3 separate regions of the Homo sapiens genome follow, and regions 2 and 3 are each linked to region 1. Evidence: fine-mapped expression QTL. A gene starts in region 1. Each other region holds a variant in brackets. All regions are shown on one strand. Distances are from middle to middle.

Region 1 (4,240 bases):
ACAGATTGTAGGATGAGTTATTGGGTTCTGGAGGCACTGTTGGGTGGGTGGGTGGATCTCTTAGTTATTATATTTATCTAGTGTGGAAGGCCCCACAGAGCCCCTTCCACGTCCCAGGCTCTGCTCCAGCTGGGTTAAGTCAATGCATATTTGAAATAGAGGAAGGAGCTCGAGGGACTGACCCGGGCTCCGTCAACAGGTTCAACGTAGCAAAGTGAAAGTTCTCTCCCAGGTTAAAGGGATTCTCCCACGGCGGCCCAGGAGATGGTGGCGGCGGGCGCCCGGCTGGAGGCCTGCGCCTTTAAGGAGCCAGGGGGCGGAGGGGCGGGGCAGGAAGACGACTCCCCGGAGACGCCGCCACCGGCTAGGTCTTTTTTTGGGAGGGGGCGGGCCAGACCCTTTTATGGGCTCCGCCCCCTTTGCGGCTGCCGCGTCCCCCTTCCGCCCTCGGCTGGAGGGGAGGAAGCTAGGGGGGCGTTGCAGCGGACCCCGTCTGGGAGCTCCCCGCTGGGCGTCCGGCCCGCGGAGGCGCGAGTTTGCTGACTCGGAGGGAGCCGCTGGGGCGGGGGCGAGTGCTAATAATACCCGTTCGTTCCGCAGCCGCGCTTTACAGTTTACACAGCTGTCACCTTCGTTTCTCCTTAATTAATAATAAAAATAGCCGCCGTTCGGGAGCGCGGGCTGGGCGCCAGGCCCGGTGCCGAGCGCGGTACGAGCTCGGCCCCCAGAGCCGGCCCTCGCCACAGGATCCCCATTTTCCAGAGCGGGAAGCCGACGCTCAACCCCGCGCCGCGACTTGCCCGAGGTCACCCAGTGGGCCAGCGGCTCCGGGACCGAGGCGCGGGGCGGGGTGAGGCGAGGCGCGGTGCTGCCCCCGGCTCCCCGGGGCGGCGCGGGGCGGGGCGGGCGGCGCGGAGGGCGGGGGCGCGCGCGGATGGCCATCTTAAGTGGCCGCCTGGAGCCCAGGGCCGCTGTCCGGGGAAGGGGGCGCCGGAGCAGCCCGGGAGGTGGGGGTCTGCGTGCGGCGGCCGGGATCCCGGGAGGGAACTTTCTACTAGACGGGCCAGGGATCCTCCTGGCTTCGGACTGCTGAACCCCCTCAAGGCCCGGCCTGCGGGTGTGGGGGGTGGTGCTGGGGAACTTGGCCGAGAGGGGGAAGGGCTCTGCGGGGCTGGGAGGGGCTGCGTGAGAGGCTCGAGAACGTCGCACCTCGTCTGGGCCCCCCGCCAGAGTAAGAATCTTCAGAAGCCTGGTTAGCCAGGGAATCTCCCCGCAGGCTTTGCCGGGGGACGGTTCCCGTGGAGTTGGGGGTTCAGATCTAAGAGGGGGCTGCATTTCGCAGGAGTTGGGGGCCCCGCCCGCTTGGGTGGAGGGAAGAGGATGGGTAGGGGGTGGTCCTGGATCCTTCGCAGGTTTGGGGAACTCGATGCAGCCAAGCTGTAAGGGGGACGAGAGGAAGAGCCATGGAGTGGAATCAGACCTTTATGGGGCTTAGGGGTCATATCATTGGGAGAACTGAGAAGCGCTGAATTCTCCAGGGGGTGCCTGGATCCCGAAGTGTCGGGGCCAGGATGGGGGGACTCGGATTTCGATGGGGATTTGGGGACTGGATCTCCTCGGGTGAATGATGGGGGCAGGATCATTGTGGGGTCTGGGAGGTCCCGGGCCCTTCGGGAAGGTGGGGGCACCGTCCCCGCAGGAGGAGCTGGGGGCAGGGGCGGCCCGGGCTGCGGGCCGAGCGGAGGGGGAGGGGGCGGCAGCCGGCCCTGCGCTCCGCTCCTGCCCCTCCCCCGCCGCCTCTGAACAAACTTTTCTTTCTCTTCAAGTTGAGGCCGGCGCTGCAGGCAGCGGCGGCTGCGCGGTGAACGAGGCGGCCTGCGCGGCGGAGTGCTGAGTCCCGATCCCCGGCTCTGTCCGGCCCACGGATCCTCAAGCCCGGGCCCCGGGCCCGGCCCCAGCCTCAGCCCTGAGCGTCTCGGGGCGGATGGCGCGGGGCGGCGGGGGCGGGCGGTGCTGAGCCCTGCGCGGGCCATGGCCTCGGCCTGCGGGGCGCCGGGCCCGGGGGGCGCCCTGGGCAGCCAGGCCCCCTCCTGGTACCACCGCGACCTGAGCCGGGCGGCCGCGGAGGAGCTGCTGGCCCGGGCGGGCCGCGATGGCAGCTTCCTGGTCCGAGACAGCGAGAGCGTGGCGGGGGCCTTCGCGCTCTGCGTCCTGTGAGTGGGGCGGGGGCTCCTTGCGGGCTGGCGTGGACCGGGAGCGCGGGCACGGCCGGGTGTGGAAAGGGCCCGGGTGAGGGTTTCTGGGGCGGTGGGACGCCAGACCCGCCTCCACCCCCCAGAGTGGGAGCCTTGGCTTTCTCCTGGGTCTGAGGAGGGACGCAGGGGCACTTCCTGCTGTGTGTCTGGGGGCACTTTCAGGAGCCTTGAGGGTAGAGAATATGGGGTTCTGTGGCCCAGTGTGACTGTGATGACGAAAAATTCGGGCATTCCCCGGCAGACCCCTTCAGGCATCCTCCAGGTAGAAGGGAGCAGGGGAGAGGATGTGCATTCCACGTTGTGTGCAGTCCCGTTTGGATAGGGACTGAGTGGTGAGCAGGAGAGGGAGTCGGGGCAGAGGGACTGACGGGGTGTGTGGGGATGCCTGGCAGCTTCCTTAGGGCCCCTTTCGGTGCTTTGGGGTTCTGCCTGGCCGTGTATGGGTGGTGGGGGCGGTGATGGGTGGTGTAGAGAGGAAGGCTTGGGGAAGCAGAGGCTGAGGCTGTATGGGACCTTGCCATTATTTCTGAACCAATGAGTGAGTGTTTGAGCCCTGGCTCTGGGCTTGAGCCCTGGTTACCTGGCTGCCCTAGCCCTGAGCTATGAGTGCTGAGTGAGAGCAGAGCCAGACTTGGTGCTTCTCTGAGTGGGCCAGGTCCTGTGGCTGTGCCTTTCAGCCCAGTGTGGTTGGTAGTGGTGCTGGGGTGAGTTAGCACTCTTGGTTTTGCAGCCTTCTAGCGGCTTTGTACCTCCTGCCCTGCAGTCTGACATTGAGTTGGCTTCTGTGGGCCCAGTGAGTGGGAATCTGTGGGGGCTGCTTTATTTAGATCAGTTATTTAGATCTTTATTTAGATCTTTCTTAGCTCTGTGAACCCCCTCCCAAACTCCTGTCCCACTGTACCTTCCTTACCCCTTTGTTCTCCTGACATCTTTGGTCGGGGCGCACATTAGCCTAGACCAGGGGAGACCTTTTTTTTTTTTTTTTTTTTTGAGAAAGAGTCTCGCTCTGTTGCCCAGGCTGGAGTGCAGTAGTGCAATCTCGGCTCACTGCAACCTCCGCCTCCTGGATTCAAGTGATTCTTCTGCCTCTGCCTCGCCAGTAGCTGGGATTACAGGCGCTCGCCACCAAGCCCAGCTAATTTTTGTATTTTTAGTAGAGATGGGGTTTCACCATATTGGCCAGGCTGGTCTTGAACTCCTGACCTCAAGTGATCCACCTGCCCCGGCCTCTCAAAGTGCTAGGATTACAGGTGGAGCCACCTCGCCCAGCTGGGGAGACATTTTTAATTGTCACAACTGGGATGGTGCTATTGACATCTAGTGGGTAGAAGCCGGGGATACTGCTAAACATTCTACAGTGCACAAGAGAGTCCCCCACAACAAAGAACTGTGCAATCCAAAATGTCAGTGGTATGGAGGTTGAAAAACTCTAGCCTAGGCAATTGACCCAACAAGGAAGGGGCCCTATAAGTCTTAGCTTAGGCCTCAAGTCTGAGGCCCAGTAGGGGGAGACTAAGGAGGGACAGACTAGGCAGATGAATATCCCCAAGTCCTGCTTCCCAGCCCCCTCTGAGGCATACCCCCTAATTAGGCTGGGGAGGGAGGCAGGTGCTGGGTCAGCTGTTGAGTGGGAGGGGGACAGCTGGGGCCTGTGTCTGGGTGAGGAACATTATTGTCCCAGGAGGGGGAGAATCCTGGCCTCATTGCCAAGGGAGGCTGTGAATGGGGTGAGGGGTCTGTCTGTGAGTGGGGGCTTCAGGTTTGCCAGCTGACTCTGGCTCTTCCCCGCATCTCAAGAGCCTGGGGGTAAGGATCAGACGTGGGCGATCAGACGTGGGCAATATCTTAGATTTGCCAAATACACACATACTTGCTTACCTGTATACATTCCGGGTGTTCATGGATAACATGCAAGACACGCCCCTGCCCCAGCAGGCACAGGCAATCTGACCAGCAAGCTAGGATACTGGCCCTGGCTTCTGCCA
Region 2 (4,240 bases), 190 kb before region 1:
GCAGAAGCCTCAGGATGGGACAAGCGTAAAACCTCTCCCATGGAGTGGTACAGCAACTGGAAGATGAGGTCAATGTATTCTTGCCTTTAGGCCCCACCCTGGCTTATGATGTCCCAATCCTTCCCCTGATTTCTGGTCATAGCCATCATCAAGTAAAGAGAACAAGTACAGCCCCCACCCCAGCAATCAGCTTTGCCTTAGAGGCTAGAAAGGGGTATGGTGCGTACTCACATTCTGTCAATGATCTTGATGAAGATGCTGCAGTCCTGGAGCTGCAGCACAGCCTCCACAGGGTCAGCCACGTGTAGACTGTTCACCTGTAAATCAAAGGGAACAGCCTAGTGAGACCGTTAGAAGCAACATGGTTTGCTCCTTTTCCCAGAGGCTTAATGTGAGTGCTTACAGTTGTAGACTATAGGAATACAAGAACTGATGATTCTCAGGTTTTTAATTTCAGGAAGGAGTGCCGTTGCACTCACTCATCCAGTTACAGCCACCTGAAATGCAACCATCAGAGAGCCCTTCCTTTGGCTTCAACTAAATAAAAGCTTAAACTTTCCTAAGATGTTCCAGCACTGGGAGTATTTTGGAAGGATACACCAATAAATTGGTACTACCACTGCTTCTAAAGAGAGGAACTTGACAGCAGGGAGTCTGAGGTGGGAAAAGAAAGGCTCTTACATTATAACTCTCTGTAGCTCTTGAATGTATTATAGCTCTTTGTATTTCTTGAACGTTTACATTATAAGTTTCTGTATCCCTTGGATTTTTATATTATAGTCCTTTGTGGCTCTTGAGTTTTGAAATATCTATTCAAAACTTAAATATTACATATATGCTATACACTCCCACAAACATATAAAATCTTATTAATACATTTTATATTATAGCCCTTTGTGGCTCTTGAGTTTTGAAATATCTATTCAAAACTTAAATATTACATATATGCTATACACTCCCACAAAGATATAAAATCTTATTAATACATTTTTATTCTTTCCACACATAAAGCTTTGGCTGAGGGGAGAAGGGAAAAACAATAGGGGAACAAGATGATTTTTTAAAAAGGGGGTGGAGGGAGCCAAGCGCGGTGGCTCACACCTGTAATCCTAGCACTTTGGGAGGCTGAGGCGGGAAGATCACTTGAGCTCAGGAGTTCAAGACCAACCTGGGCAACATGGTGAAACCCTGTCCTACAAAAAATACAAAAAATTAGCCAGGAGTGGTGGCACATACCTGTAGTCCCAGCTACTTAGAAGGCTGAGGTGGGAGGATCACCTTAGCCCAGGGAGGTCGAGGCTGCAGTGAGCTGGGATTGCATCACTGTACTCTAGCCTGAGTGACAGAGCAAGACCCTGTCTCCAAAGGAAAAAAAAAAAGAAAAGAAAAGAAAAAAAAAGGGGGCGGTGGGGGATGAAAGAATAGGAGCTGGGAATTTCAAAGAAAAACTTCTTAATTCTAATTTAGTTGCCTGTTCCCATTCTTTGGCTTCAGATAGGCATACATTTAAATCAGTTTTTACCACTAGAATATTCACCAGGGGTCACACACATCAGGTACACAGGTTATTCAATAAGTATACATGGTCAACCTCTACAGGAAAACCTCATGAATTCCACAGGCACTACAGTTCAGAAGTAGCCTGGGCTGAAGTTTACGTTTTTATTACTATAGGAAGAAAGGGTTTGCTAAGTTAATTATTCACATATTCAACACTAAGAGGGGAGAGAGACTGAGCCTGCTTTAAGAAACAAGGTATTTTAAAGAACTTCAGCATAGTGGTTATGTGCAGACAACTAGATTCTATTGCTTACAAATGTGTTCTCTATATTTGGGCTGGGAGCCAGTACATACACACTTTGGGCCCAGCTCCTCCACAAACTTGCCAGCAACCTTTGTTACAAACTTTATTTCTCTCTGCACTAGTTTCCTCCCTTGCCAAATGGATGGAATCCCTACTTTATCTACTTCAAAGGACCAGTGTGAGCTCAAATGGGATTATGGATGCAAGAACACATTAAAAAATATAAAGTAGGCCAGGTGCAGTGGCTCACACCTGTAATCCCAGCACTTTGGGAGGCTGAGGTAGGGGGACTGCTTGAGGCTGGGAGTTTAGGACCACCCTGGGCAACATAACAATACCTTGTCTCTACTAAATAAATAAATAAGCAAGCAAGCAAGCTGGACATGGTGACATGTGCCTGTAAGTCCTACCTACATAAGAGGCTGAGGTAGGTGGATCATTTGAGCCCAGGAGCTGGAGAAGTTACAATGAGCTATGATAGTGTCCCTGCACTGTGGCCTGGGCAACAGAGACATCTCAAAAAAAAAAAGAAAAAAGAAAAACTAATAAACATAAAGCACTATTATGGTTAATAAAATTAAAATAATGAAGTAGACATAACATTTGTATTTCTTAATAGTTAAGTTAGCTGCATGCACTATAGAATTAAGAGGATTTTTAAAAATCAATGATTTCTCTACAGACATGATAGTATTTATTTGAGTTAAACACTTTCACATTTAAAAACAACTTTTAGGCCAGGCGCAGTGGCCCATGCCTGTAATC[C/A]CAGCACTTGGGGAGGCTGAGGTGGAAGGACTGCTTGAGGCCAGGAGTTCAAGACCAGCCTGGGCAACATAAGGAGACCCTGGCTCTACAAAATAATAATTTAAAAAAATTTTTAGCTGGGTGAGGTGGCTTGCGCCTGTATGCTCGCGTAGTCCCTGCTACTCGGGAGGCTGACGTGGGAAGATCGCTTGAGCCTGGGAGGTCAAGGCTACAGCGAGCTATGATCACACCACTGCACTCTAGCCTGGCCAACGGATTGAGACCCTGTCTCAAAAAAATAAATAAATAAATAAATACAACATTTAGGCTAGGTGTGGTGGCTCATGCCTGTAATCCCAGTGCTTTGGGAGGACGAGGAGGGAGAATCGCTTGAGGCCAGGAGTTTGAGATCAGCCTAGGCAACATAGCAAGACCCTTTCCCCAAAAAATTAAAAAAAAAAAAAAAAAGAGAGAGAAAGGAAAAATAGCCCAGCATGGTGGTGCATGCCTGTGGTCCTAGCTACTCAGGAGGCTAAGGTGGGAGGCAGAGGATTGCTTGAGTGCAGGAGTTCCAGGCTGCTGTGAGCTATGAAGCTGCAACTGCATTCCAGCCTGGGTCACAGAGCAAGACCCTATCTCAAAAAGCGGAATCTTTTAGATGAATCCCAGTTAAAACAGATTAAAATTTTTTTTAACGTGAAATAAAATATGACTTATTGACGTCTTAAAGAGTTTGCTAATATATTTATAATATATTTTTACTGTCTTTTGAAAAAAGCTCAATCTAATTGGTCAGGACAGGTCATTGTAAGTTTTCTAGGAAGATTCTGAAAACTTCAGGCCAAGATTCCATTTTACCTGCAGAAAATGAAGAGACTGCCAAGGCTAAACCATCTCCTATCAATACCTGCAATCTAGGTAAAACATTCAAGGACTATGGATGCTTGTTCACTAACAAGACTAAAAAATCATACCAATTAGCTGATGTAAAGTCTCCTAAGGAATCTGGATTCATCACATATACCAATTAAGTAATAATCCAGCCACAGTTCCTTTCATGGATATAAAAATATTTTTTCTTCCTGTGAGTTATTTTTGCTCTCAAGTGAGAAATCATTTAAAAGTTGAGGAAGTAGAGAAGTTCCTTCATCTCTAGTCAGGGCATAAAACATGAGAGTGAGGACCAGGCTCACCACATAACTCAAGAGTTGCCTTTAAGGATTGCAAGGTTGCTTAAGGTTGTCAAATCTTAAAATACCCTGTAACAGTTTATTCATTATTAACTGCTGTTTACAGAATAGTTTCAAGCTATAATTTAAGTATTAATAAAATAAACCACTAATTTATTTTTATGTTATAAATTACTGAAAATTCAGAAGACAAAAAACAGAGCTCCCAATAATTCTAGTATTTTAATACAGGTACTTTTAGCATTTTGATGTATTTCTTTCGTTTTTTCTAGGTAATTTTTTTTAAACTGTAGTTGGAATTATCATGTGTGTGTATGTGTATGTTCTATGCCACTCTTCTCACTAACATAACAGATGCATTATTTCATGCTACTACAGTTTCATAAAATTTGCTTTAGCTCCACAACTTTTGTTTAAATTGAAAACATTCTCTATACTATATTTATATATATTTTTAAGAGACAGGCTCTTGCTATGTTATAGGTTGGAGTGCAGCAGCTAT
Region 3 (4,240 bases), 220 kb after region 1:
GCTGGGATTACAGGTGCACGCCACCACACCCAGCTAATGTTTTTGTATTTTTAGTAGAGACAGGGTTTCACCATGTTGGACAGGTTGGTCTCGAACTTCTGACCTCAGGTGATCCACCCATCTTGGCCTCCCACAGTGCTGGGATTACAGGCATAAGCCACCATGCCCACCAGGCAAAGGTAGTTTTTCAAGCTGCCTTACACTGTTGGTTGAAATCATTTCCTAGCAGCTGTGGGACTGAGGCTGTATTGCTAGCCAGCAGCAGCTGAGAACCTCTCAGCTCCTGGAAAAAACTCTTGGGTCTTTGCCATGTAACCACTTCCTTAGATTCTCTCATACTTGCAAGCAAGCTTCTCTGACTTCAGGAAGGGCCTGGTTATTTTAAAGGGCTCACCTGATTAGATCAGGCCCACCCAGATAATCTCTCTTTTGATAAGTCAAAGTGAACCGATAAGTAATGTTATCACAGGAGTGATATCCCATCACATTCACAGGTTCTGCCTGTACTCAAGAGTGTATACAAGGTATGTACATTCAGCGGTGGAAACCTTAGGGATCATCTTAGAATTCTGCCTGTCACAGTACTCTGCAAAAGTGTCAAGGTCACGAAAGATAAGGAAAGACTGAGAAGCTGTTACAGACTGGGGATTGAGAAGAAATAAATACTAAATGCACTGTGTAATCATGGATAGGACCAGGGAACAGAAAAGGGACATTAGTGGGAAAATTGATGAATTTCAAATAAATTCTAAGGTTTAGTTAATGATATTGTATAAATGTTAATTTCCTGTTCTTGATCATTGTATTATGGTTATATAAGATGTTCACATTGGGGAAGTGGAGTGGAGGATATAAGAGAACTCTTTGGGCTGTGCATGGCGGCTCATGCCTATAATCCCAGCACTTTGGGAGGCCGAGGCCGGCGGATCACAAGGTCAGGAGATGGAGACCATCCTGGCTAACACAGTGAAACCCCCTCTCTACTAAAAAATACAAAAAATTAGCCGGGCATGGTGGTGGGCGCCTGTAGTCCCAGCTACTCGGGAGACTGAGGCAAGAGAATTGCTTGAACTGGGAGGCGGAGGTTGCAGTGAGCCGAGATCGTGCCACTATACTCCAGCCTGGGCGACAGAGCAAGACTCCGTCTCAAAAAAAAAAAAAAAGAATTCACTTTCTGCTGATCCTGCTGCATATTGCCATAGCACTGTCTTCAGGTCCACTCTTCTACAATTCTTCTTTGGAATAACTAAGACAAAATGATTTATTATTAATAATAACAGGAAGTTTTATTAAGTATTTTCTATGTTCCAGCCACTGTGCTGAGTAAGTGAACCACATCAATTATCTATATAAATGATCAGGTAAGTTTCTCCCAGGTTTGGTAGGCATGTTTTCCATGTGATCTCTCCAGTCAATGAAGGCACAATCCCTCAGTGATAGCAGGTAAACCACATCTGAGAAATCTTGGAGAAACTCATCTAAGCATTTTTCAAAAATAGAAGTTAACAGCTACTGAATATTGAGCATGTATTCTGAGTCTGGCATTGTGCTAATAAGCACTTTACATGAATAAACTCAATCCCTACATTAACACAAGTTAGAGACTAGTAGCATCACAGGCTTATGTTGAGTCAGAGCCCAAAGTCTTAGCCATTACACAACTTTTCCTAACGAAGGAACTTGTGTGTGTGTGTGTGTGTATGTGTGTGTGTAAAGTCTTCTGCATTACTTTTTCTCAAAAATATTGAACACTTTCCTTATTCACAAATAGAAGATAGTAAATACAATTTAATCTTTTCCTGATAAAGGTTATTGCTATCCTGATTTTTGTATCACATGATAGATGTAGAACTCTTAAGCACTAACTCAAATCATGCTCTGAAAATAAACAAATCTCTTAATTGCCTCCTTTTCTTGT[C/T]ATCTGTTTCTTTCCCATAGAATCAAAGTGTAGCATGTGGCCTCTGGGCAGGGTAATATGTCCTCTTATTACATTAAAGATGAGAATTTAGTTTGTGATAAATCTGGCACTTTACGTAAGTGGGGAAAATATTAATTATTTAATAAACAGTGTTGGGACAACTAGGTGGCCAACTGGGGAAAAAATAAATTAGATTTGTCTCACCCCTTCACCAAAATAAATGCCAACTGAATCAAAAGACTTAAATGTGAAAAAGAAACAATAAACATGCCAGTAAGAAAACATGAAGTGATTTTTCAAAATAACTTTGGAGTAGGGAAGCTTTCTAAGCACGACACAAAATTCAGACCCACAATAGCAAAGACTGATGTATTTGACTCTACAAGTAATTATTCTGATTGAAAAATACCATGAACAGTAAAAAATGTAAATGATAATCTCGGAAGAATATATTCACACCACAATGATGGAGGGTTAAGTAATACAGAGAACTCTTATAAAATATGAAAAAGACCTACAATGCAGTAAGTGAACAAAGACAATGCCTCTGCTAGCTTATGCAGTGCCTCTGGGAAAAGTAAAGAAAGCAGCCATCTCAGGATGAATTAGAAAAAGGGGCCCCTAAGCAGTGTACATGTCCCAGGGAGCAGCATGCTGCCAGACTGCAGCCTCCACTTCTCCTATTGGTTTAGGCTTTTGAGTGGCACACGAACTGCATATCCAAACACAGCTGCCTGGGCAAAGGACTTGACCAAAGACCTCATGAGAAATGAAATATAAATCATATTTAAATATATGAAAATATGCTCAATACACCCATGACAAGAAACATACAAATTAAAACTATAGTGATCCATATCTTACAGCATATACAAAAATGAACTCAAAATGAATTATTGTCCTAAATGTAAAACCTAAGACTCCAAAATTTCTTGAAGAAAACATAGGAGAAAATCTTTGTGGCTTTGGATAAAGCAGATTTCTTAGATACAACATGAAAAACACAATGCATAAAAGAAAAAAAAAAAGATCAATTTGACTTCATCAACATTAGGAACTTTTGCTCCTCAAAAGCCACTGTTAAGAGAATGGATAAGCTGCAGAGTGGAGAAAATATTTGTAATTATACATCCAGTAAGGAACTTACATCAGAATATGAAAAGAATTCTCAAAACTCAATGATAAGAAAACCACCCAATTTTTATGTTGGAAAAAAGATTTGGAGAGATAACTTCTTACTGTCAAATAAGAACGCTAAAAAACACCCTCAATATCATTGCTCTTTAGAGAAATAAAAATTAAAACCATGAATTATATATGTATTAAAATGTCTAAGATTAAAAAGACTGGCCGTACCACATGACGATGTGGAGCAACTGGAACTCTCATATACTGCTGAAGGGGAATGTGAAATGGTACAACCACTTTTGAAAACAATTTGGCAGTTTCTTTAGAGGTTAAACAAGCATGTACCATATGATCCAGTCATTCCAACTTTTAGATTTATTATCCAAGGAAAACAAAAACATATGCTCACACAAAGACTTGTACATGAATGTTCATAGCAACTTTGTAAAAGCTACAAACTAAAAATATTACCAAAACACCAGGGGTTTGGTCTAGGTCCAGGGAGGGTCCTGCTTCTTCCATATACTAGAGGTTTGGTCTAGGTCAAGGGTTTGGTCTAGGTCAGGGGTGTGGCTTAGGTCAGGCCTGCTGCTCCCCTTTCTTGGTGCTACAGCCTAGAAGATGGGAGCTCAGTCTCAAATCCATCTCCCTGACTGATTAAAACTAGGGGTTTATACATCAGGGAAGAAATGTAACAATGTGTAAAAAAACAGGAACTAGGGAGGGGCAAAGGAAGCAATCATAATGAATGAGGGGTTGTCATCTGGTGCTGTGATCCATTGAGTTTCAGTTCTTTGATACTTTTTCCAGAGGCCTGAAGGTTGTTTCCTGAGGAAGGAACTCAGATAAAACAAATATAAATTTCAAGCTTTAAGATCAGGAGGGTCAATTTCTATGTTTATCAAAAAGAACCATCTTTGGGACTATTGGATTGGTTTCAAAAACAACCTAAACTTCTATCAATACATAAAAGGATAAACAAATTGTGGTATATCCATACAATGGAGTGTGACTCAGCAATAAAAAGGAACTATTGATATGCACAATGACATGGATGAACCTCAAGATATTAATGCTGAATGAAGCAAGTCAGTTCTACAAATAAATAAGCAAGCAAGCAAACACAGACTACACATTGTATTATCCAATTTTATAAGATTCTAGAAAATAAAAGCAAATACTGTATATAGTAAC

The links. PIP is the estimated chance that this variant, and not a neighbour inherited with it, causes the effect.
Region 2: its variant is the best candidate, but not a certain one, in a credible set for the expression of INPPL1 in whole blood (TOPMed, PIP 0.83).
Region 3: its variant is the best candidate, but not a certain one, in a credible set for the expression of INPPL1 in whole blood (INTERVAL, PIP 0.59).

What each region holds. Positions count from the first base shown.
Region 1 is chr11:72,222,954-72,227,193 of GRCh38, forward strand. INPPL1 (inositol polyphosphate phosphatase like 1) reads left to right here and starts at 1,814. Exons shown (of 28, transcript NM_001567.4): 1 at 1,814-2,213. The coding sequence starts at 2,032. RefSeq lists silencers at 300-529, 770-1,169, 1,720-2,079, 2,090-2,299 and an enhancer at 3,705-4,064.
Region 2 is chr11:72,028,974-72,033,213 of GRCh38, forward strand. NUMA1 (nuclear mitotic apparatus protein 1) reads right to left here. Exons shown (of 27, transcript NM_006185.4): 4 at 232-317. Among named protein-coding and RNA genes, the nearest start is that of NUMA1-AS1, 17 kb to the left of the region's middle. The variant C/A (reference allele first, on the strand shown) is at 2,570.
Region 3 is chr11:72,441,567-72,445,806 of GRCh38, forward strand. No RefSeq gene overlaps it. Among named protein-coding and RNA genes, the nearest start is that of CLPB, 9.2 kb to the left of the region's middle. The variant C/T (reference allele first, on the strand shown) is at 1,919.